Regions from separate parts of the Homo sapiens genome. Here regions 1, 3 and 4 are each reported to be linked to region 2. Evidence: microRNA targets listed by miRTarBase, many of them from high-throughput screens and not tested one by one. Region 2 holds a microRNA gene; each other region holds the end of a gene's coding sequence.
The links. Region 2 holds the annotated microRNA hsa-miR-106b-5p (UAAAGUGCUGACAGUGCAGAU, at 2,518-2,538, shown strand). A microRNA usually pairs through its seed, bases 2 to 8, with sites in the 3' UTR of a target mRNA and lowers its output. Matches are read on the target gene's strand: a 7mer-m8 pairs with bases 2 to 8, a 7mer-A1 pairs with bases 2 to 7 and ends in A, and an 8mer does both.

Region 1 (5,484 bases), not on the chromosome of region 2:
ACTGCCTGATGAGTTGTATACAAGTTCCAACCTATTAAAATTTAGATGATGCCACCCCCACATTCCTTATGCACCAGTTGTTTGGGGTTGATTCCACGTTGTAGATCAAATTGTGTTTCCCAAGTTGTGTTTCCCACTGTAGCATGAAGTTTGTTTTGTGGCTCTGAACGTTTTTTTTTATATTAAACACTAGAAATAAGACTAATTCAAGTTTCGTCTTAATATATTTTTAAAGTAGTAAGCAAAGCTATATCTAAATCTATGCTAATGCAGTAGCCACTAGCCACCTTTGAATTGTTATAAATTATTAAATAAAATTAAAACCTCAGTTTGCTGGAGATTTGAAATACTTAGTAGCCATGTGGCTGCTGCCTACTATATCGGACAGTACAGGGATTCTAGAACATTTTCATTATTGTAGCATTGCTGTGGATCTTTCCAGGGAAATCTCTGCCCTCGTTGATGGAGATTTCACTTGTTAAGATACTTATTGAAAACCATGTATTTGTTTTTTCTGGGAAATGAGAGTAAGAAAAGTTTCTTCAAAACTCGTGACTGAATTTTCCTTGAGTGAGTTTGCTGGATTTTCCTTTGGTGAGAGTTGTGAAATTCTGGGTCACAGTGGCAATAAAACTTCACTTAGATTCTTTGAATGTGATCTAGATGCTGCAGAGTATTAAACATAACTCTAGAAAAACTCAAGGACGAAAATTATAAGCGAATTACAAGTGAGAGGAGAATATAGTCTGAGGTGTTCAAGTTCTTTTGTGTATGTATTTAATTTTGTTCCTATTTTATTTCTAGCTGATTGGAATCTTTCTCGCCTACTGCCTCTCTCGTGCCATAACAAATAACCAGTATGAGATAGTGTAACCCAATGTATCTGTGGGCCTATTCCTCTCTACCTTTAAGGTGCGTTCATTTTGGTCCTCAGCTCTGTTAGTGTTGATATTTATTCTAGCCTGTGTATGTGATGCATGGACTAAGTTTGCCAAGAACGTCTTGTCTAGTAATATATTTAAATCTAGCTGGTGCTATGTAAACCCTGTGTAGGCAGGTTAGGTCTCTATACACAGGGCATGGTCAGAAAGTAATGACTTAGCTACAGCTTATCTATGCATGCTCTCTACAGTTATGCAACAGAAGACTCCCCGTGTGGGTTTATATATTTACATACACATGTCAGCCTAAAGATCATAAGTGGTCCCTTTTTTAACATGTTTTGGCCTGGAGAGAGGAGAAACAAAGAATCCCAAGAATGACCTTATTCGTGAGGTTCCCTGGCAGGTGCACTCTGCTCCTCACCAATATTGACATTTTCCTTAGTCCTTTTCGTAGTTTTCATTTACCACAATCTTAATCAGTTGTTGAGAGTGTGGCTTTCTTGGTAAAAAGATGTTTTTGGTGGGCTTTTGTTAAAACCGTAAACTCATCTGGTCTAATAAGGAACCAGATTTTGGGAAGACATGTGTTTCAATGGCGTTAGTATTTGACTGGTAAAATACTGTGAGAACTGTTGTTGGCTGAATTGATCCCTAGGGCACACTTTGCATTTTACTTGAGCCACTGACTAGGAACACATAGGAAGGTCTTCATTAGCAGGAATAGATTAGAATGTATGTAAGCAAATACAGATGTTGAAATTTGGGTAACAAGTACATTAACTTTTTTTCTTTAATTTTAGGACATTTAGGGTCCCCCCTGTGAATTAGAAAGTTGCTTGGCTGGAGAACTGACAACACTACTTACTGATAGACCAAAAAACTACACCAGTAGGTTGATTCAATCAAGATGTATGTAGACCTAAAACTACACCAATAGGCTGATTCAATCAAGATCCGTGCTCGCAGTGGGCTGATTCAATCAAGATGTATGTTTGCTATGTTCTAAGTCCACCTTCTATCCCATTCATGTTAGATCGTTGAAACCCTGTATCCCTCTGAAACACTGGAAGAGCTAGTAAATTGTAAATGAAGTAATACTGTGTTCCTCTTGACTGTTATTTTTCTTAGTAGGGGGCCTTTGGAAGGCACTGTGAATTTGCTATTTTGATGTAGTGTTACAAGATGGAAAATTGATTCCTCTGACTTTGCTATTGATGTAGTGTGATAGAAAATTCACCCCTCTGAACTGGCTCCTTCCCAGTCAAGGTTATCTGGTTTGATTGTATAATTTGCACCAAGAAGTTAAAATGTTTTATGACTCTCTGTTCTGCTGACAGGCAGAGAGTCACATTGTGTAATTTAATTTCAGTCAGTCAATAGATGGCATCCCTCATCAGGGTTGCCAGATGGTGATAACAGTGTAAGGCCTTGGGTCTAAGGCATCCACGACTGGAAGGGACTACTGATGTTCTGTGATACATCAGGTTTCAGCACACAACTTACATTTCTTTGCCTCCAAATTGAGGCATTTATTATGATGTTCATACTTTCCCTCTTGTTTGAAAGTTTCTAATTATTAAATGGTGTCGGAATTGTTGTATTTTCCTTAGGAATTCAGTGGAACTTATCTTCATTAAATTTAGCTGGTACCAGGTTGATATGACTTGTCAATATTATGGTCAACTTTAAGTCTTAGTTTTCGTTTGTGCCTTTGATTAATAAGTATAACTCTTATACAATAAATACTGCTTTCCTCTAAAAAGATCGTGTTTAAATTAACTTGTAGAAAATCTGCTGGAATGGTTGTTGTTTTCCACTGAGAAAGCTAAGCCCTACATTTCTATTCAGAGTACTGTTTTTAGATGTGAAATATAAGCCTGCGGCCTTAACTCTGTATTAAAAAAAATGTTTTTGTTTAAAAAAAACTGTTCCCATAGGTGCAGCAAACCACCATGGCACATGTATACCTATGTAACAAACCTGCACATTCTGCACATGTATCCCAGAACTTAATGTAAACAAAAAAATCTTAAAGTGCAAATATTAAAAAAAACTGTTCTCTGTGAAAAAAATTATATTCCATGTTATAAAGTAGCATATGACTAGTGTTCTCCTAGAGATCAGACTTTTTTGATTGTATAGTTTGCATTAAAAAGTTGTACAGGGAGGGATGTAACCTGTATCTTCAGGATAATAGGGAAATTAATAAGGAAAATAATAATTACTAAAATTTGAGTTGAAGTCAGGGAATTATTTCTTTGGTTTTGAGTCTCTTTATACATCCATTAGTAGAACCTGTCTAGTCTGATTGCCACAGTCCTTGAATTGATGGTAAGGGGGAGTCAGTTACAGTTAGAAAAAAACCTGGGCAAAAACTACTAGTTAAATGATCATGAATTTTGAGTATGTGTTTTAAAATGCTTGGAGTTATTGCAGAAAAATGATATTCTCCATTAGAACATTTGATGTGTGACTTTTGACATAGGATAAGGTGATAAGAAAATTAAGTTGAAAAATAGTGACTCAAGTACAGCAAATCAGATTTTTGGCTACTGAGATTAAAGAAGCAAATATTTAAAGGATTATCAGCAATTTTCAAATACATATTTTTCACTGCAGTGGTTTTGAAGAATGTTTTAAGGTTATATTTAGAGTTTTTAAAAAAGTTTTCCCTCAGCCAGCCATGGTGGCTCACATCTGTAATCCCAGCACTTTGAGAGGCTGAGGCGGGCGGATCACCTGAGGTCAGGAGTTCTAGACCAGCCTGGCCAACATGGTAAAACACCGTCTCTAATAAAAATGCAAAAATTAGCTGGGTGTGGTGGCAAGCACCTGTAATCCCAGCTACTTGGGAGACTGAGGCAGGAGAATCACTTGAATCCAGGAGTCAGAGGTTGCAGTGAGCCGAGATCACACCACTGCACTCCAGCCTGGGCGATAAGAGTGAACCTGCATCTCAGAAAAAAAAAAAAAGTTTTCCCTCATTATTAAAAAGGAAAAATTATAGAAAATTAAAATATAGAATGTAGAAAGAGGAAAAACACCACACATCACTCGTCAGGTGGATTGGTTTGTTTATTTTTAAGATGGGTTTATTTTGGATAGCCAGTTAGAAAACGCCCTTATAGCTGATGTGTGCTTGTGCATACTGAATTGTATACTTAATTCTGAAAGTAATGAGGAAACATTTCACCTAATGATAACTGGTACAAAGGAAAGTTCACGTGTCTTTAATAGTTTGCTAATTAGACTAGCTGGTTAGAAAGAGGGATCACTAGATTGGAGAGAGAGATCCAGTTTCCACTGGAGGCAGTAGGTCTGCTCATTTCCATGGTGACAATCCTAATGGCAGAGGGAGTGAGTTTCCCTTAGTGGCACAGGCTGGGGGTTTTGAGCTTTTAAGTTTTGTTTTATAGAAATCTGGAGAATTTTACATTTTACTTCACTATATATCTATGTTTAAAATAATTCATTTTTGATGTCCCAAAATTGATGTGGGTTGCCTTATTTCCAGGCACCAGGTTGCTCACTGCAAGGTGACATTTTGAGAAGCAGAAATCTCTAGGTATATCTTAAGTGTGAAAAGCTTGTTAGATTTCCATGGCCTATTCCAGGTGGGTTGTTGGGTTTATGTTGTAAGCATCAAACTTTTGTGGAAATAAATACCTAATACAAGGTATAAATACCATTTCTGGTTTTCCTCAGAGCTCACAAAAGAATCTTTGAGACTTGATGTTTTCAACCTCCTGTCAGAATCCAAGTTGGTGATGCACCCAAACAAACCTGTTAAAATATGAGACACAGAGCCGGGCGCGGTGGCTCACACCTGTAATCCCAGCACTTTGGGAGGCTGAGGCAGGTGGATCACGAGGTCAGGAGATCGAGACCATCCTGGCTAATACGGTGAAACCCCGTCTCTACTAAAAATACAAAAAAATTAGCCAGGTATGGTGGCGGGCGCCTGTAGTCCCAGCTACTCAGGAGGCTGAGGCAGGAGAATGGCGTGAACCCGGGAGGCGGAGTTTGCAGTGAGCCGAGATCGCGCCACTGCACTCCCGCCTGGGTGACAGAGCAAGACTCCGTCTCAAAAAAATAAAATAAAATAAAATAAAAAAGAGACACAAAGCAATATATGCATTTTCTCATGAAACAGTAAACTTTGGTTCCTTTGGACTATTCTGTGAGGGTTTTTGTTTGTGTTTGCAGGGAAAAAAATTAACCTAAGATATTAATGCCATTTCTACTTTTCCTCACAGCATATATAAGATAATTTGAGATTTGATTTTTTTTTAAGTTTGCTACTTTTCTAGGTTGAAACTTTGTGATGCGGCAAACCAAACCTTACTAATTTAAAAAGGAAAACAAAAGGCTAATGTGTCAGAAATGAATATATAAACTGAAACAGCTATAGGGAAATAAGACTTTCATTTTTAAGTCATCGCTTTAAAACTTCACCCGGATTGCTTGTGAGAGAGAAGCCATTATGATTTAATTATGGTTTTTCTATTAGGTACCCTGACCCCATGGAGCTTAGTAGCATCAGGCACTTGTAAGAACACAGTAAATGCTAATGGAATAAATGAATGAATGAGTGAGTCTA
Region 2 (4,614 bases):
TGGTCTCGAACTCCTGACCTCGTGATCTGCCCGCCTTGTTATCGGCCTCCGAAAGTGCTGGGATTAGAGGAGTTAGCCACTGCGCCCGGCCTCTACTAAAAAGTTTTAAAAATTGGTTGGGTGTGGTAGTGAGTGCCTATAGTCTCAGTTACTTGGGAGGCTGAGGCCGGAGGATGGCTTGAGCCCAGGAGCCAAGGTTTCAGTGAGCCACAGTTGTGTTCTGAAGAGAACCAGTGGGAGGGGAAGGGGGACATTGCCAGTGCCCCACAGATCCTCGGGCATCTCAAGAAGGCCTGGTGGAGGGAGTGGAATGATCCCAGCGCAGGCCTCGCCTCCCTGGCCCGTTTGTTGTCTTTTGCTTGTTCTCTTTCTTGTTCTTTCTCTCTCATGGTTCCTTATTTCTTCTCTTCCAGGCCAGTACACAACAGGCCGGGGCTCCTCAGGAGTGGGGCTTACGGCAGCTGTGCTGAGAGACTCCGTGAGTGGAGAACTGACCTTAGAGGGTGGGGCCCTGGTGCTGGCTGACCAGGGTGTGTGCTGCATTGATGAGTTCGACAAGATGGCTGAGGCCGACCGCACAGCCATCCACGAGGTCATGGAGCAGCAGACCATCTCCATTGCCAAGGCCGGCATTCTCACCACACTCAATGCCCGCTGCTCCATCCTGGCTGCCGCCAACCCTGCCTACGGGCGCTACAACCCTCGCCGCAGCCTGGAGCAGAACATACAGCTACCTGCTGCACTGCTCTCCCGGTTTGACCTCCTCTGGCTGATTCAGGACCGGCCCGACCGAGACAATGACCTACGGTGAATGAAGCTCAACACCCAAAGAGAGGTCCCCTGTAATGATCTGTGTAGGGAGGAGGAGAGGTGAATCAGAAAACAAATTCCACGCTCCTGGAAACCCCAGAGCCTCCCCTTTGCAGCAGGGGCTGGTCCATGGTTCTCAGGGAAATGGTGGGTTGGGGCTGAAATGCTGATGAGGATTTCCCGGGAAAGCTTGTCCCTCCTACACTGTGAGGAAGTGGCAGAGCCAAAGGAGGGACACCTAAGAGGACATGGGTGCGTAGCCCTAAAAAGGGTGTTCCTTCTAACCTTCCCTCTGTCCAGGTTGGCCCAGCACATCACCTATGTGCACCAGCACAGCCGGCAGCCCCCCTCCCAGTTTGAACCTCTGGACATGAAGCTCATGAGGTAGGAGAGCTGGGTGCGGGTGGGCAAACGTTGGCGTGGGCCGTGCGAGCCTCCTGAAAAAGTGCTTATTAGTCTTAGGGTGTGTGTTTTTCACACCACCACTTCCCGCTACAGACATGTCCAGAGCCTCAGATCAGCTTTTAAGTGGAAAATTCCACACTTCATATCATAGGGACACAGGAAATTTTGTTTCCTACACTATTTATTTTTTTTGAGACGAAGTCTTGCTCTGTCACCCAGGCTGGAGTGTAGTGATCTCAGCTCTCTGCAACCTCTGCCTCCCAGATTCAAGCGATTCTCCTGCCTCAGCCTCCTGAGTAGCTGGGATTACAGGCGCACGCCACCACGCCTGGTTAATTTTTTGTATTTTAGTAGAGAGCAGTTTCACCATGTTGGCCAGGATGCCCACCTCTGCCTCCCAAAGTGCTGGGATTACAGGCATGAACCACTGCTCCTGGCCCACAAAAATATTTTTAATAAAATTACCTTCAGGTTATGTGTATCAGTTGTATATGAAATACAGGTGAATTTCATGTTTAGACTGGAGTCCCATCCCCAAGCTATCTCATGCATATGCAAATACTCCAAAATTTAAAGTTTAAAACACCTGCTCCCAGGCATTCTGGATGATAATCTCTATCGCTATTTTCCCATGAGCCTCCAGTGTTCTTTCCGGTTTTTACTCCCTTTTAAATATTCTGTAAACAGTTCTCTTTAAATAAAATATATGTTTTGCCATGTCATGCGCTCAGAGGAGGGGTCTGGATCCTCTCTTAATGACAGACGGATTTGTCTTACAAAGGCCATTTTCCCGAAAAAAATAGGAAATAACTTGGAGGATACTGGTGGGGGCTATACGTTTGGTGAAATCCATCAGTGATATTCAAGCCAAGCAAATAATCACCCACTAATTTGTGTTTTCCACTTAAAATTCTTGGAGGGGACCATGTTAAATGGGGAGCCCTGGTACAGAAAACAACATGGGCTCATATTCACTCCCTTCCCCATCTCCCTCTTCTGCTTCCCCATGAACCTTCCCCCACAGGCGTTACATAGCCATGTGCCGCGAGAAGCAGCCCATGGTGCCAGAGTCTCTGGCTGACTACATCACAGCAGCATACGTGGAGATGAGGCGAGAGGCTTGGGCTAGTAAGGATGCCACCTATACTTCTGCCCGGACCCTGCTGGCTATCCTGCGCCTTTCCACTGCTCTGGTAAGTGCCCAAATTGCTGGAGGGCCATCTGTTTTGACCCTTAAAGGGGTAGCTCCTTACCGTGCTCTCATTGCCGCCTCCCCACCTCCCGCTCCAGCCCTGCCGGGGCTAAAGTGCTGACAGTGCAGATAGTGGTCCTCTCCGTGCTACCGCACTGTGGGTACTTGCTGCTCCAGCAGGGCACGCACAGCGTCCGTGGAGGGAAAGGCCTTTTCCCCACTTCTTAACCTTCACTGAGAGGGTGGTTGGGGTCTGTTTCACTCCATGTGTCCTAGATCCTGTGCTACAGACCTTCCTTTCTGTCCTCCCGTCTTGGACCTCAGTCCTGGGGGCTCCAAAGTGCTGTTCGTGCAGGTAGTGTGATTACCCAACCTACTGCTGAGCTAGCACTTCCCGAGCCCCCGGGACACGTTCTCTCTGCCAATTGTCTTCTTGGCTGAGCTCCCCAAGCTCCATCTGTCATGCTGGGGAGCCCAGTGGCGTTCAAAAGGGTCTGGTCTCCCTCACAGGACAGCTGAACTCCGGGACTGGCCAGTGTTGAGAGGCGGAGACTTGGGCAATTGCTGGACGCTGCCCTGGGCATTGCACTTGTCTCGGTCTGACAGTGCCGGCCCAACACTGCGGATGCTGGGGGGAGGGGGGATTCCACTCCTGTTTTGTGAGTAGGCGACCCATGGGCTGCCCAGCCTTAAAGCCAGAACAAGGGTGTCCCCTGACCTCGTTCCACTGCCCTCCTCCCGTTCCCATCTTTCCCCCCTACCTTCCCCTTAGGCACGTCTGAGAATGGTGGATGTGGTGGAGAAAGAAGATGTGAATGAAGCCATCAGGCTAATGGAGATGTCAAAGGACTCTCTTCTAGGAGACAAGGGGCAGACAGCTAGGTGAGTGGTTTAGTGAAGGACAAAGCTGTGTCACTTTGTCTTCTGTGGCCATGTGTCTGAGGTTGGCCTCAATTCTAACACTGGCCACCATTGTTCTCTGTTGATGTCGAGCATTCCTGTTTGTATCCTGACCTTACACACCCACTCATTTCCTTCAGGACTCAGAGACCAGCAGATGTGATATTTGCCACCGTCCGTGAACTGGTCTCAGGGGGCCGAAGTGTCCGGTTCTCTGAGGCAGAGCAGCGCTGTGTATCTCGTGGCTTCACACCCGCCCAGTTCCAGGCGGCTCTGGATGAATATGAGGAGCTCAATGTCTGGCAGGTCAATGCTTCCCGGACACGGATCACTTTTGTCTGATTCCAGCCTGCTTGCAACCCTGGGGTCCTCTTGTTCCCTGCTGGCCTGCCCCTTGGGAAGGGGCAGTGATGCCTTTGAGGGGAAGGAGGAGCCCCTCTTTCTCCCATGCTGCACTTACTCCTTTTGCTAATAAAAGTGTTTGTAGATTGTCATCTTCTAGCCTGGGCCTGACTTCCATTAAAACAGGGTTTTGTGCGTTTTTTAGATTCCTGTTCGTTTTTATGCTATTTCATCCACTCAGTAAATTACCTGAGTAAAGTGCATCTCCCTGCCAGGCCCCCAGTATAGACACTGGGGATGCGGCAAGGACTAAGCGGTCCCTGCTGTTTGGAGATACTTAAGATGGGGCTCCACTTTTTGAGCCCCCCGACTCCCTTATTTGGTCTTATACTGCCTGTGTGCAAGTCAGGCTCTGGGGATATGGCGCCAGTATGAAATGCAGGGTCTCTTGGTTTTTCCCCTTTTCTAGCAGACAGGTCATTACTTAGTTCCCAACTCCCACTCTAAAGCTCTGGTTAGCGGGTGATGAAAATCAGCACAAGTGATCACATACAGCAATCCCAACCTTTAGACCACTTCCTAGCTGCCTCTCCAAAATATGTAGTAAACGGTCATTGAGAAACTCTCCCTCCTGGTAATTCACAGTGCCCACAGGATCAAGGCTTGGACTTCTTTCTAATAAAAATCTGCTTACTATCCCTTCTTTTTTGCGTATGTGAAAAACAAGTTAATTTAGCTCAGGAAAGTAGTCAATTATCATGTTTATAAGGTTGGGTGGGCTAGGTAAGATGATGTAGAGGGTGACATTAAAGTGTAGAACAGAGACCACTTAGGTGGAAGCAGGCAGCCTTGGACTTTGCTAAAGACCAGTCCATGTGACTGACATGGGGTCACTTCAAATGGTAGTGCCTCCCTCACTGAAGAGCATCAGAAGGGCTTCTGAGCAAGGCCAGAATGAGCCTCGA
Region 3 (5,484 bases), not on the chromosome of region 2:
CACGCCCGTAATCCCAGCACTTTGGGAGGCCAGGGTGGGCAGATCACCTGAGGTCAGGAGTTCGAGACCAGCTTGGCCGACATGGTGAAACCCCATCTCTACTAAAAATACAAAAATTAGCTGGGTGTGGTGGCACGCACCTGTAATCCCAGCTACTCGGGAGACTGAGGCAGGAGAATTGCTTGAACCCAGGAGTCAGAGGTTGCAGTGAGCCAAGATCACGCCACTGTACTCCAGCCTGGCGACACAGTGAGACTCCCTCTCAAAAAAAAGAAAAGAAAAATTAGCTGGGTGTGGTGGCACACACCTGTAACCCCAGCTACTCGGGAGGCTGAGGCAGGAGAATCACTTGAACCCGGGAGGCAGAGGTTGCAGTGAGCTGAGAGCGTGCCATTGCACTCCAGCCTGGGCGACAAGAGCAAACTCTGTCTCCAAAAAAAAAAAGAAAGAAAAGTTATGTAGAATGCTTATCACAGAGCTGAGCACAGAGTGCACTTCAGCAAATATGAGCTACTGTATGAACAGAGGGTTTCTGTCTGGCCCTTTCAGTTGGTGTTTTTATCCCTCCCTCTCTGCCTCACAATTGTCACTTGAATATCAGTTTTTTACCTCTGTGGGCCAGGCCCTGTGCTGGGCCCTGAAGAGGGAGTACTGAACAAGACTGATAAGATCTGTGCCCTGGTAGTGGCACTACAAACCATGACAGAGATTGGGCATCTTACATGAGGGGGAGTCAGAGGAATAACCCAGGTGCCAGACAGACAGGAGCTCACAGGCAGCTGGTGCCCCGCTGTCAAGGAAAAAGCCTGTTTATCTTCACCTTTACTTTTCAGTATCACAGTTGTCTGTCCATGCTGATGTTTTCCCTGGTGTTGAGGGCATACCATGACTTACCGCATCCTCTAACTTGTTTCTCAAAGGGTGTGAATCTCCAGAAGCTTCTGGAAGCTGGAAACTTTATCTGTCAAGCCCTGAACAGAAAAACTAGCTCCAAAGTGGCTCAGGCTACCTGTAAACTCTGAGCCCCTTGCCCACCTGAAGCCCTGGGGATGATGTGGAAATAGGGGCACACACAGATGATTCATGGATGGGGACATGGAAATGAGAATAGGTTAAATGGTGCAGGTACCTCATAGCCAGCTCTACACAGAGGTCTCTCCTGGCAGAAAGCAGGCGAAGGGCAGGAGGAGCTGCTTGGCAGAAGGACCTCCTGCCCAGACCTGAGGAGTGAGAGGCTTTGAGGGCTGAAGTCTCCCTTTGTTACGGACCCTGGCCCAGGAGTTGAATGCCTGAGGACGTGTGGGAACCCCGTTCCCTACTTAGCATGATCCTTGAGTCTCCTCTCTGGATGGAATCCGCGAGCTGGCCACCTGGCCACCCTCTACACGGCTCCACCCTGCCATGGCCGTGGGGCCCTTGCTCTCTGACTTCTCAGGACACAGGTCATGGAGGTTCTTCCCAAGCTGGCAGAGGCCATTTGTGGAAAGTGGAGAGCTACGTGGTGGCCGTCTGCCAACTCCAGCATCTCTGGAAAATCTCCACGCTGAATGTGATTTTTGAAAACAGCTTATGTAATTAAAGGTTGAATGGCACATCATAATTCCAGCATTCGGTTGTGCAGCTGTGTGTATACATGCGCGTGGGGGAGTAAAATACTTTACCATGTTGCACTCTGAGAGGAAAATGGAGACTATGAACTAGTTTATTAATCTTTGGATTTCCTCCCTGTTTCCCCACCTGAGCCCCAAATCCATAGTGACTGGAAATCAGTGGTTTTGGGCTTACTCAGGAGGCTGCTTGCGGCAGTTGCTGGCCAGAACACCCGACGGGGTTGTTTCTGAGCTTTGCCTCTGTGACTGGGGCTATTGCACAAGCTCCCCTGAGGACACACTTGCTGCTTTGGGCCTCGGTGGCCCGGCCTCTCCCTGGCGCTCCCGGGCCCGGGAGCGCTCACCTGTCGGTTCCCTGGACTCTGCGGGCAGGCGCTGGCTGATTCCCGGCTGCGCGGACACCTGTGCGCTCCTGCATTTAGGGCTCCTTTGCTCTGGTTTCATCACGCAGGATGTCACATTTTGTGCATATTATTCTCTAGCTCTACTACTTTTCATTGTAAACAAACAATCATTTTCTAACCTGCCGTCGTGGAAGGCAGAGTGCAGACCGACCCTTCCCGGCAGGTGGGGGCTGAGAGCCAAGAGCGCTGGAACCGCTAGTGTGGCCTGACAGCTTCCTCCAGCTCCTTGGTTTATTTGCAAACTGGACTTCCAGCACCAGGCCCCCTGCGACCCCCTCCTGCCTTAGTCCCGTGGGATCGGGTAGTTCAAGATTTTGAATTCATGGTTTGGCACACACCGGCAAGTCTGAAAACCTGCGGGTCAGAGTGGGGCGGAGGCGTGGGCCCCCTACCCTCTGCCCCCTGCCCCCTCGGAAGCGCAGCCCTCTTCCAGGGGTTGGGACGAGCTAGCGCGGGGACCCGGGGCACCGGCAAGGACCCACCCGCTACTGGGACCTGGCGCCGGCGGCGCCTCTCGCGGGGTGGCACCGCCCACTTCCGCCTTCCGCGGGCGCGCGCTGCGCAGTCTTCGTCACAGCGCGGAGGCCTTTTGTCCTCCCGCCCTCCCCGTAGTGGCCGTAACCCGAGTGACATGTTTCCTTGGGGGCGTGGAGGGGCGGGGTCGGGGCCGGAGTGGGCCGTCAGCACTTAAAGGGCCCGCGGCTCGGGCGTAGGAGGCGGTGCCTCTGCAGCAAGCGTGGGGCGCGGGAACCCGAGCAGGTTCGGGAGACGGAATGAAGGGCCGGGTGGGCTCGCGAGGGGCCGGGGAGTCCGCGGGGAGCGAGGGAGTTTCCGAGGGGCGGGTCGTGTTCCTGGCAGCGTCCCTCCAGGGCAGGCCCGCCCCCTTTGTCCCAGTTCCCCGCTGCCCGGGCTGGGGCGGCCGGGGTTCATTCATTGCCGGCCTGAGGACTCCTAGCTCGGCCCCGCTCCGCGCTACAGCCCAAAGCCCAGCCTGAGACCCAGCCGCCCTCGTATGCCCACGGCCTAGCTCCCCTTCCCTCCAACAGACAGACTGGGAAAACCGAGTGGGCGACGGCTGAGCAAGGTCACTCCGCTGTCGGGGGCGCAGCCGGCCTCAGACCAGCTTTCGTGCTTCCCAGGGCCTCTCTGCGACCACTTTCGGGGTCCGCGCCAGGCGCGGGGCGGGGGCGGGGGCGGCTTCGGCGCGGCGGGCAGAGTCCAGCGGGCAGCGGTGGGGGAAGGGCGAGCCGCCTGGGGAGAGGGCCGGGCTGCGAGCCTGGCGATCCAGATTCCAGCCCGCTGTCGCCAGCTGTGGGACCGAAGGGCAACTGTTTCACCTCTCTGGCCCTAGTATCTGTATCTGTAAAGTGCCAGTGATAACACCTGTCTCACCGAGATGCTGGGGGAATTCAGGAAAATCATGCAAAAGTGCCTGGTACGGAGCCTGGCACGCAGAGGGCTCTTGGTCAAGTGGGTTGGAGCTGCGTGAGCCCAGAAGGGGATAGAGGCAGCGTGGAGGAAGGCGGCAGCGGGCCCGGTCGCTGGGAATGAAAGGCCTCAGTGTCTGGGGCTTCCTCCCCGTACTACCCGCAGAGTTTGTTCAGGGTGGAGGTGCGCACCTGGCCAAGTCCACGTCTACACGGCCCACCCAGAGTAGCCTAAGTTGGGCGGGATTCCTAACTCTGAGCCAGGAGTGACCGGGCTGGCCCTGGCATGGGCAGAGGCTGAGCGGGGGTTGGGGTGGGGCCCCCTCCAGGACCAACCACGGTGTGGTTGCCCCTGAGCTGGCCTCAGCCTGCCTGGCAAAGGACCTCACCCTTGAGGCCATGTGATCTATTTCCTGCTTCCTCCCAGCTGACCCTTGAGGGAAAGGGGGTGGGGGCCGCCTAGAGCAGGAGGTATTAGTCACTGCGCCCAGGAGCCAGTTTACACCTAGCGAAGGCGGAGGCATTGGACAAGCCTGGGTCTGAGCAGACAGAACCCCTTCCTGCGACCCTGGAGTCCCAATCGTGCTGCCATTTTCCTTCTGCCCAGGACTCTCCAGTCCTCAGTCACCTTGGACAAAGAAGTGTGGATCCTCAGATTCCATCTTTTCCAACTCCAAGGCAAGTGGAACTAGAAAATAAGGTGCCTGTGTGTCAGGTCTCCCCAGCTCTGCTGTGGCGGGCCCTTAAGATCACCTCACTGAACCCTCACGCTGCCTCATGAAGTTTATACAATTATTAGCTCTGTTTTACAGAGATAGAAACTGAGGCCAAGAGGCTAATTAATTTCCAAAGCCTAAGGCCAGAAAGTGATGGTACCCAGACTTGCCCCAGGGCTGACTTCTGAGCCAGTCTGGTACCTAGGGCACACTGCCGCCTCCTTCCAAAGCGAGCTTAGGGGGCAGGATTCCAGTGGGAAGGAAGCTCTGAGCAGGCAGCCTCAGCCACCTCTGAGACTCTGTATCCTGGGCCAGGTGCCATGGCAGAGAAGGTGCTGGTAACAGGTGGGGCTGGCTACATTGGCAGCCACACGGTGCTGGAGCTGCTGGAGGCTGGCTACTTGCCTGTGGTCATCGATAACTTCCATAATGCCTTCCGTGGTGAGCGGGGCAGTGGGGCTGGGGCTACTTGAGGGGATGGCAGAAGCAAAACCCTGGGTTCCACCTCCACCACCGGGCGGGGAATGTGTGTCTGGCTAGTCCCTGGGAACACAGCACCCCATGTCGTGATGATGTGGCCTACATGTACCCTACCAGGAGGGGGCTCCCTGCCTGAGAGCCTGCGGCGGGTCCAGGAGCTGACAGGCCGCTCTGTGGAGTTTGAGGAGATGGACATTTTGGACCAGGGAGCCCTACAGCGTCTCTTCAAAAAGGTGGGTGCAGGCTGGGCACGGTGGCTCACGCCTGTAATTCCAGCACTTTGGAAGGCCGAGGTGAGGAGATCACTTGAGCCCAGGTGTTCAAGACCAGCCTGCTCAACACAGTGAAACCCCATCTCTACAGAAAAATACAAAAATTAGCTGGGCATGGTAGCCCATACCTGTGGTCCCAGCTACTCGGGAGGCTGGCATGGGAGGATGGCTTGAGCCTGGGAGGTGGAGGTTGCGGTGAGCTGAGATGGCACCACTGTACTCCAGCCTGGACAACAGAGCGAGACTGTCAAAAAAAAAAAAAAAGGTGAGTGCAGGCAGGCAGGCTGAGGGCATTGCCAAGGACTAAAACCAGTAGAGCAACCTCTGGCCATGTCACCCCTGCAGTACAGCTTTATGGCGGTCATCCACTTTGCGGGGCTCAAGGCCGTGGGCGAGTCGGTGCAGAAGCCTCTGGATTATTACAGAGTTAACCTGACCGGGACCATCCAGCTTCTGGAGGTGAGAGGCATGGGACAGGGCACAGACACTAGGAGGGTGTCCAGCTGGACCCCAGCCTGGCAGGCAGTGCCAAACACAGAGCCCAAGCTGTATCATCCTGGACTCATGTCTTTACC
Region 4 (5,484 bases), not on the chromosome of region 2:
CCAGAGGAAGTGGCTCCCCTCTGCACACACACACCGTGGAGGATTATCTTTTAAATTGAAGAAATAAGGAAGTGAAAGAACTTTTGAGCCTGTTAACTCAGAAGATTAGCACTGGAAAGGACCTGGGATCTAGACCGACCTCCTTATTTCCTCATACAATGGAGGCCTACAAACTTGGGATGTTTTACCCAGGTCTACATACATTGTGTCACAGCCATGACTGCACCGTGTGACTCCTGTTCTGGTGTTCTTTCTGGTACACCATTGAAAGGCAATGAGATTATTTCCATGTCTTTAGGAGGAAAAACAGAACAGCATCCTGCCACACCCAGCCTCTTGGTATTCACCATGCACTGTATTTCTTCCTTAAAACAATTGAAGCCCAGACCTTTCTTTTCTGGCCCCCTACTGAAATGGAAAATATGTTCGATTATTGTTAATTTAAAAAAATCAGTGAGGATACAAGTGTTAGACGCTACTAATGAATCAAGGGAAGTCTTCAATAAGATGTAGCCAAAAATAAGCAATAATTGATTCTTAGAAAGGTATAACAGTGTGAAGACGGGTTTGCTCAGAATCACACTTTTAATGTTGTTCAGAGAGATTACGTAGTTAAAAGAGTGTTTATCTCAGGTTACAGAAAAGTAGTTCCTGCAGTGGCTGAGGATCAGCAGGCTGCTTTGGTTCACTCCAGCCTTGCTGCTTTCTAACCATGGTCTTTGGCATGGTGCTTTATCACATGTGCCTCAGTTGCATTATCTAAAAGTCAGCTAATACTACCTACCTCCCAGGAGTATTTTGAGAACAAGTTGAGATTATACTTTTTAAGTACATTTTTAAAATGAGTCTAAATTGAGTCTGTTTTATTTATAATTTGTGGTTATTCACTTAAGTCCTGGACCCATTGCTGAAAGGTTCCAGGACTGTGCTGTTACGGAGAGGCTAGGCATGAGTGAAGATGCAGGGTGCTGGGAACTCCAGAAGCCTCAGACCAGCACCGCACTTCCTGGATTGCTAATTTTACTTGAGTATCTTGGGAAATTTTATTTTTACATCAAAGAAAACGCAACTTTTCTATAGAGTAGAATGAAAAATGAAATTTCAAAGAAGTTTCGTGGAGGTTTGGGTGAGGGAAGTCAGCTTCAGCCGCTGTCTTAAAATCCAGGGGGAGGGGTTTCTTATTGTTAGGGAACTTCAGTGGAGAGCATTTAGGCAGTAGTAGTTTAGAATTTTCTTCTCATAAGTAGGTGAAACAGCTAGCAGTGCTGCATATCAGGAGAGAAGTTGGGAGTCTTTCAGGTATACCCCGTTTCCATGTTTTTGGTAGTAAAAGGGATGCTTTGCAAAGCCCTTGATCAGTTTCCCAGCATTTTGGTTTGGATGACTTTGACAAGTGTTGGGAAGTGGAGGGGTGTTGTGGCTGATGGTGTCTGTTTCCCCCAGGCCCGCCTGAACTGTAAGCACTGTGGGAAGCCGGTGATCGACGTGAGGATCGGGATGCAGTACTTCTCCGAATATAGCAACGTCCAGCAGTGTCCACACTGTGGGAACCTGGACTACCACTTCGTGAAGCCATTTTCCTCCTTCAAAGTTCTCGAAGCTTATTGATGAAAGCTTTGCTTTAGTAATAGCTATTTTATTGATATTATTACTTTATTACATATCTTTTATAGGGAAACATTCTGTGACATTAATTTCCTTTCTAATTTAAAGGAGAGTTACTTTGTTGTATGTGTGCCACTAAAATAGGGGCTGCCCTTGCCCTGTCTTGATTCCCGAGTGTTAATCTGTGGTTTTGACCAGAGCCCAGATGGGTAATCCTGTGCATTTGGGTTGGGGTTCACTCTTACCAAGAATCTTTGATGCAGCTTTAAGATGGTGGGGAGGATGGGGTGAATTTAGGAAAGGAATTTGTGGTTATAAACTAAGAGCTTGATAGGAGTTGGAAGGAAACTCTTACTAAAATGTTAACTTTCTAAAAACCTTCTTTTAGATCTTCCTTGGGCCTTTGGAAAAATATGTGACAAGTGAATGTAAGTCTGTGCCTGGAGAGCTAATAGTGCATTAGTCTATCTCAGCCTAGTGTTCTGCAGCACACATGGGCAGGCAGTTTACTCACACTGACAGGTGACCTGAAAGTGGCACAAGTGCTGTTTCTATCACTATTGTAATTTGCCAGTTCATTTTTCATGCTGAAAGTAATATCCAAATTGTAAGACATATGAAAGATATTAGTGTTGCAAATATGTTTAGGTAAACTGACCTATAACAGAATATGTGAAATGAATTTGGAAATAATGCAAGAAGGCAGAACTCAATCATTTAAATTGTGTCTTTGAAGTTGGTAATATAGCTTTTAAGGAGAACCCATGAATAACCTGATTTGGGCAGTGATGATTTATTACAGGTTGCACTGTTGAAGTGTCATTTGGTGTCAGGTTCTTCTCACAGGTAAATCTTTCAGCCACAGAATCTAACTGGTGAGCTTCAGAACCAATAATTGCCACATTTATTGTCCTCAAAATTGCTTATGGCCATGTATAACCAATTAATTCTGAGTTTCCAAAATCAAAGATTTGACCTTAAGAGGGAAGGGAAAAAAGTGTGAAAGGATGATGAAGAAAATAATTTTACTATTTCTTTTAAAAGTATGTTTTGGAAAATCAATGATTTTAATGCATAGCAGTATGTTTGAAAAATAGACCATTCTAAAAAGCCCATGATACCTTACTGTTGATGAAAAAGGATGATCATATATATAGAACTTGATTAGTCAGAGCATTGGGCATTCCAAAATACAGCCTTTGGTTCAGTAGATTTTAATGCTTTAAATAGACTGACGTCGCATACCCTTATAGAATTGGAATATGATTTCTCAAAAATTAATTTGATAATTTCATGTATGATGTGCATATATGCTAAAAGAATGCAGAAAATCATTTTATGAATAGCCAAATTTGGGGTTGATGTGAACATTTTATGTTACTCATTTGGTTTATACTTTTTTTTTTTTTTTTTTAACTGTGTGGTTTTTCTTTTCAGAAGTATTTAGGCAATATTGCACGTGAGTTTCAGTTCTTTTTTTCTTTTTTTTGAGATGGAGTCTCACTCTTGTCACCCAGGCTGGAGTGCAGTAGTGCGATCTCAGCTCACTGCAACCTCTGCCTCCTGGATTCAAGCGATTCTCCTGTCCCAGCCTCCCAGGTAGCTGGGACTATAGGCACGTGCCACCACACCCGGCTAATTTTTTGTATTTTTAGTAGAGACAGCGTTTCACCATGTTAGCTAGGATGGTCTAGATCTCCTGACCTTGTGATCTGCCTGCCTCGGCCTCCCAAAGTGCTGGGATTACAGGCGTGAGTCACTGTGCCTGGCCAAGTTTCAGTTCTATATGAAGTATTTGATGTTTTGTTTGAAACAATACAGCATTAAAGAACCAATGTTATTCACTAATATCATTCATCTTTCAGTTTGGATGATTTGGTTTGCTGCATCTAGGTTGGTGTTTGATCATCTGAAAAAACATTTCAGTGGGAAGAAATGCATAAAATGCCTATAAGAAGTAGAAAGTCATTGAACTGACAGTGTTTGATGCAACTAAAAGAGGATTGTAAGACATAGCTTTCTGCAAACTTGTCTTTAATGCACAAAGCTGTAGTGGTGAATTAACTATCTCCTTATTGATTCTCTCCTGTACCCAGATGCAAAAAGTGCTAAGTTTCTCTTGTCCTCGTAATACCATTTGGATTTTATTTCTGAATTTAAATAGTAAAATATTTATGATGCTGATCTTTAACCCACCTAAAATTTTATAGTGAAACCTGCTTTATATTGTTGTTCTGAAGCTTACAATTGACCTATACATTGCATTCAGCAAGCTCCTGAATTTAGAACTGCCGTCAGTGTAGTGTATGCTGTGTTCCATGTTGCCTTTTTAGATGGCTTTCTACCCCCTGAACAATAAATAGGATGAGGTTTTACTGTAATTGGGTAAAGTTTACTCTTGGACATTATTTCGATGCTAAAGTAAGGATTCTGTGGATGTTACTTAAAGAGAAAAGCATAAGAGCATGAAGCATATCTGGGAATATCTTTTGCCTTTAAGACGATTCATTCTTGTCTAGAGGGAAAATCTGGCTGATTTGGGAATAAAATATAATCGAATATTCAACACCATGAAGATAAATCTTATTTTGGAAATCTACTGACCTTAATACCCCAAGCTTGCCCTGAATACTTTGATTGGAATTGGAATATATCAAAAAAGGTTAGTATTTTTGTTGTAGTTAGGATACTAAAAGGATATTAGTTACCCAAGAGATCCAATTTGTTTTTCTGATGAATAGTGTTCAGTAAAATGAAGCAGTCTTAAGAGTGACTAATAATTTCAAAGTGATTTTTCGTCTATTCTTAATATTTTTTAATTATTTATTTTTAAGAGTTTTATACCTTGAGCAGATACAATGATCTGCTTTAGTGAGAGGACAATTTCTGATTGATTGTTTTCTCTTCAGGCCATCTCACCTCTTCATTCTCTTGTTACATTTGAAGCAGTTGATATAATGGGTTTATACTTTAAAAGATAGACATGGTGCCATGAAGTTGGGGAGTTGGGTGAATTATCCCATTCTAGTTACAGAGGAGCTTTCCTTAAATGCCCTTTAACTTCTAGGTTTTGTTCAAGAAGTTCATTTTCTGAGTAAAAGGTATTTTCATATATGTTGGGGGAAAATTAACTCATCTAAAAAGAATCTTATTAGGTATTTGAACTCTAAAACTAACAGATAAGACAGATATGTACCTTATTAGAGCACCAGAACTAATTTGCTAAGTCTTTTGTTTAGTCCTGCAAGACTGATGCTTAATACACAGTCTGTTCTCCTGTGTCTAGGTCAGGAACTCCAGTTTGCTTTTCTGTTTTGTGTCCTGGTAGCAGCTGTTGAGTAACTTTCATTGGAGGTTGGGAAGGAAGTGAGGAGAAAGTGTTCTTGTTTAGTGTTTTATTTCCTATAATAGGATGCTGCCTAACCCAGTTCATCTCTATGTCCTGTTCACTGAATATTCCGGGTAATTGAAAGAAAATATAATGGATGGGCTCCATTAAAACCAGCTCAAAAATAAATTCTTGTCAGTAAAGATTTCTTGTCAAGATGTCTTGGATTGCACTTTTGTTGAGGAAAGACAGTGTAAATAGTTAAAGAATGTTGATAAAATTGAAACATTTGGTTGTGGAATTGTGTGTGGTTTTAGAGGGTTTCTGTTTGTGAAATGTATGTATTAAAAATAATAAAATTCCAGAAACTAACATTGTACTCTGTCTTTAGTTTGTCACTTTATTTTTCATTGAGATTTTTGAGCAGTGGGATTGTCTGGTCAGAAAAGATGAAGAGAAAGCTTTCTGAGGTTTTGATCACTATTCAGGTAACCATTTCAAAGTCACTCCTGCAGCTAATAAAAAAAACTGCCAACTTTTTTGCTGCTTGC

Region 1: the mRNA of TSPAN6 is a reported target of hsa-miR-106b-5p. Seed matches in the 3' UTR shown: 7mer-m8 at 3,593-3,599.
Region 3: the mRNA of HMGCL is a reported target of hsa-miR-106b-5p. The part of its 3' UTR that is shown has no 7-base or 8-base seed match.
Region 4: miRTarBase lists HECA as a target of hsa-miR-106b-5p. Seed matches in the 3' UTR shown: 7mer-m8 at 5,163-5,169.

What each region holds. Positions count from the first base shown.
Region 1 is chrX:100,626,187-100,631,670 of GRCh38, reverse strand. It overlaps TSPAN6 (tetraspanin 6), which reads left to right. Exons shown (of 8, transcript NM_003270.4): 7 at 805-912; 8 at 1,685-4,563. The coding sequence ends at 873. Among named protein-coding and RNA genes, the nearest start is that of TSPAN6, 7.9 kb to the left of the region's middle.
Region 2 is chr7:100,091,967-100,096,580 of GRCh38, reverse strand. It overlaps MIR106B (microRNA 106b), which reads left to right and starts at 2,507; the gene lies at 2,507-2,588. COPS6 (COP9 signalosome subunit 6) reads right to left here. Exons shown (of 10, transcript NM_006833.5): 10 at 4,394-4,614. It overlaps MCM7 (minichromosome maintenance complex component 7), which reads left to right. Exons shown (of 15, transcript NM_005916.5): 11 at 414-807; 12 at 1,111-1,194; 13 at 2,240-2,408; 14 at 3,180-3,289; 15 at 3,448-3,853. The coding sequence ends at 3,649. It overlaps MIR25 (microRNA 25), which reads left to right and starts at 2,938; the gene lies at 2,938-3,021. It also overlaps MIR93. RefSeq lists an enhancer at 580-1,080.
Region 3 is chr1:23,798,001-23,803,484 of GRCh38, reverse strand. HMGCL (3-hydroxy-3-methylglutaryl-CoA lyase) reads left to right here. Exons shown (of 9, transcript NM_000191.3): 9 at 921-1,600. The coding sequence ends at 1,022. GALE (UDP-galactose-4-epimerase) reads left to right here and starts at 2,731. Exons shown (of 12, transcript NM_001008216.2): 1 at 2,731-2,773; 2 at 4,049-4,119; 3 at 4,473-4,598; 4 at 4,755-4,870; 5 at 5,255-5,368. The coding sequence starts at 4,478. RefSeq lists silencers at 2,321-2,530, 2,691-3,170, 3,221-3,320.
Region 4 is chr6:139,175,498-139,180,981 of GRCh38, forward strand. It overlaps HECA (hdc homolog, cell cycle regulator), which reads left to right. Exons shown (of 4, transcript NM_016217.3): 4 at 1,444-5,305. The coding sequence ends at 1,608. It also overlaps a transcript of TXLNB not described here. Among named protein-coding and RNA genes, the nearest start is that of HECA, 43 kb to the left of the region's middle. RefSeq lists an enhancer at 1-14.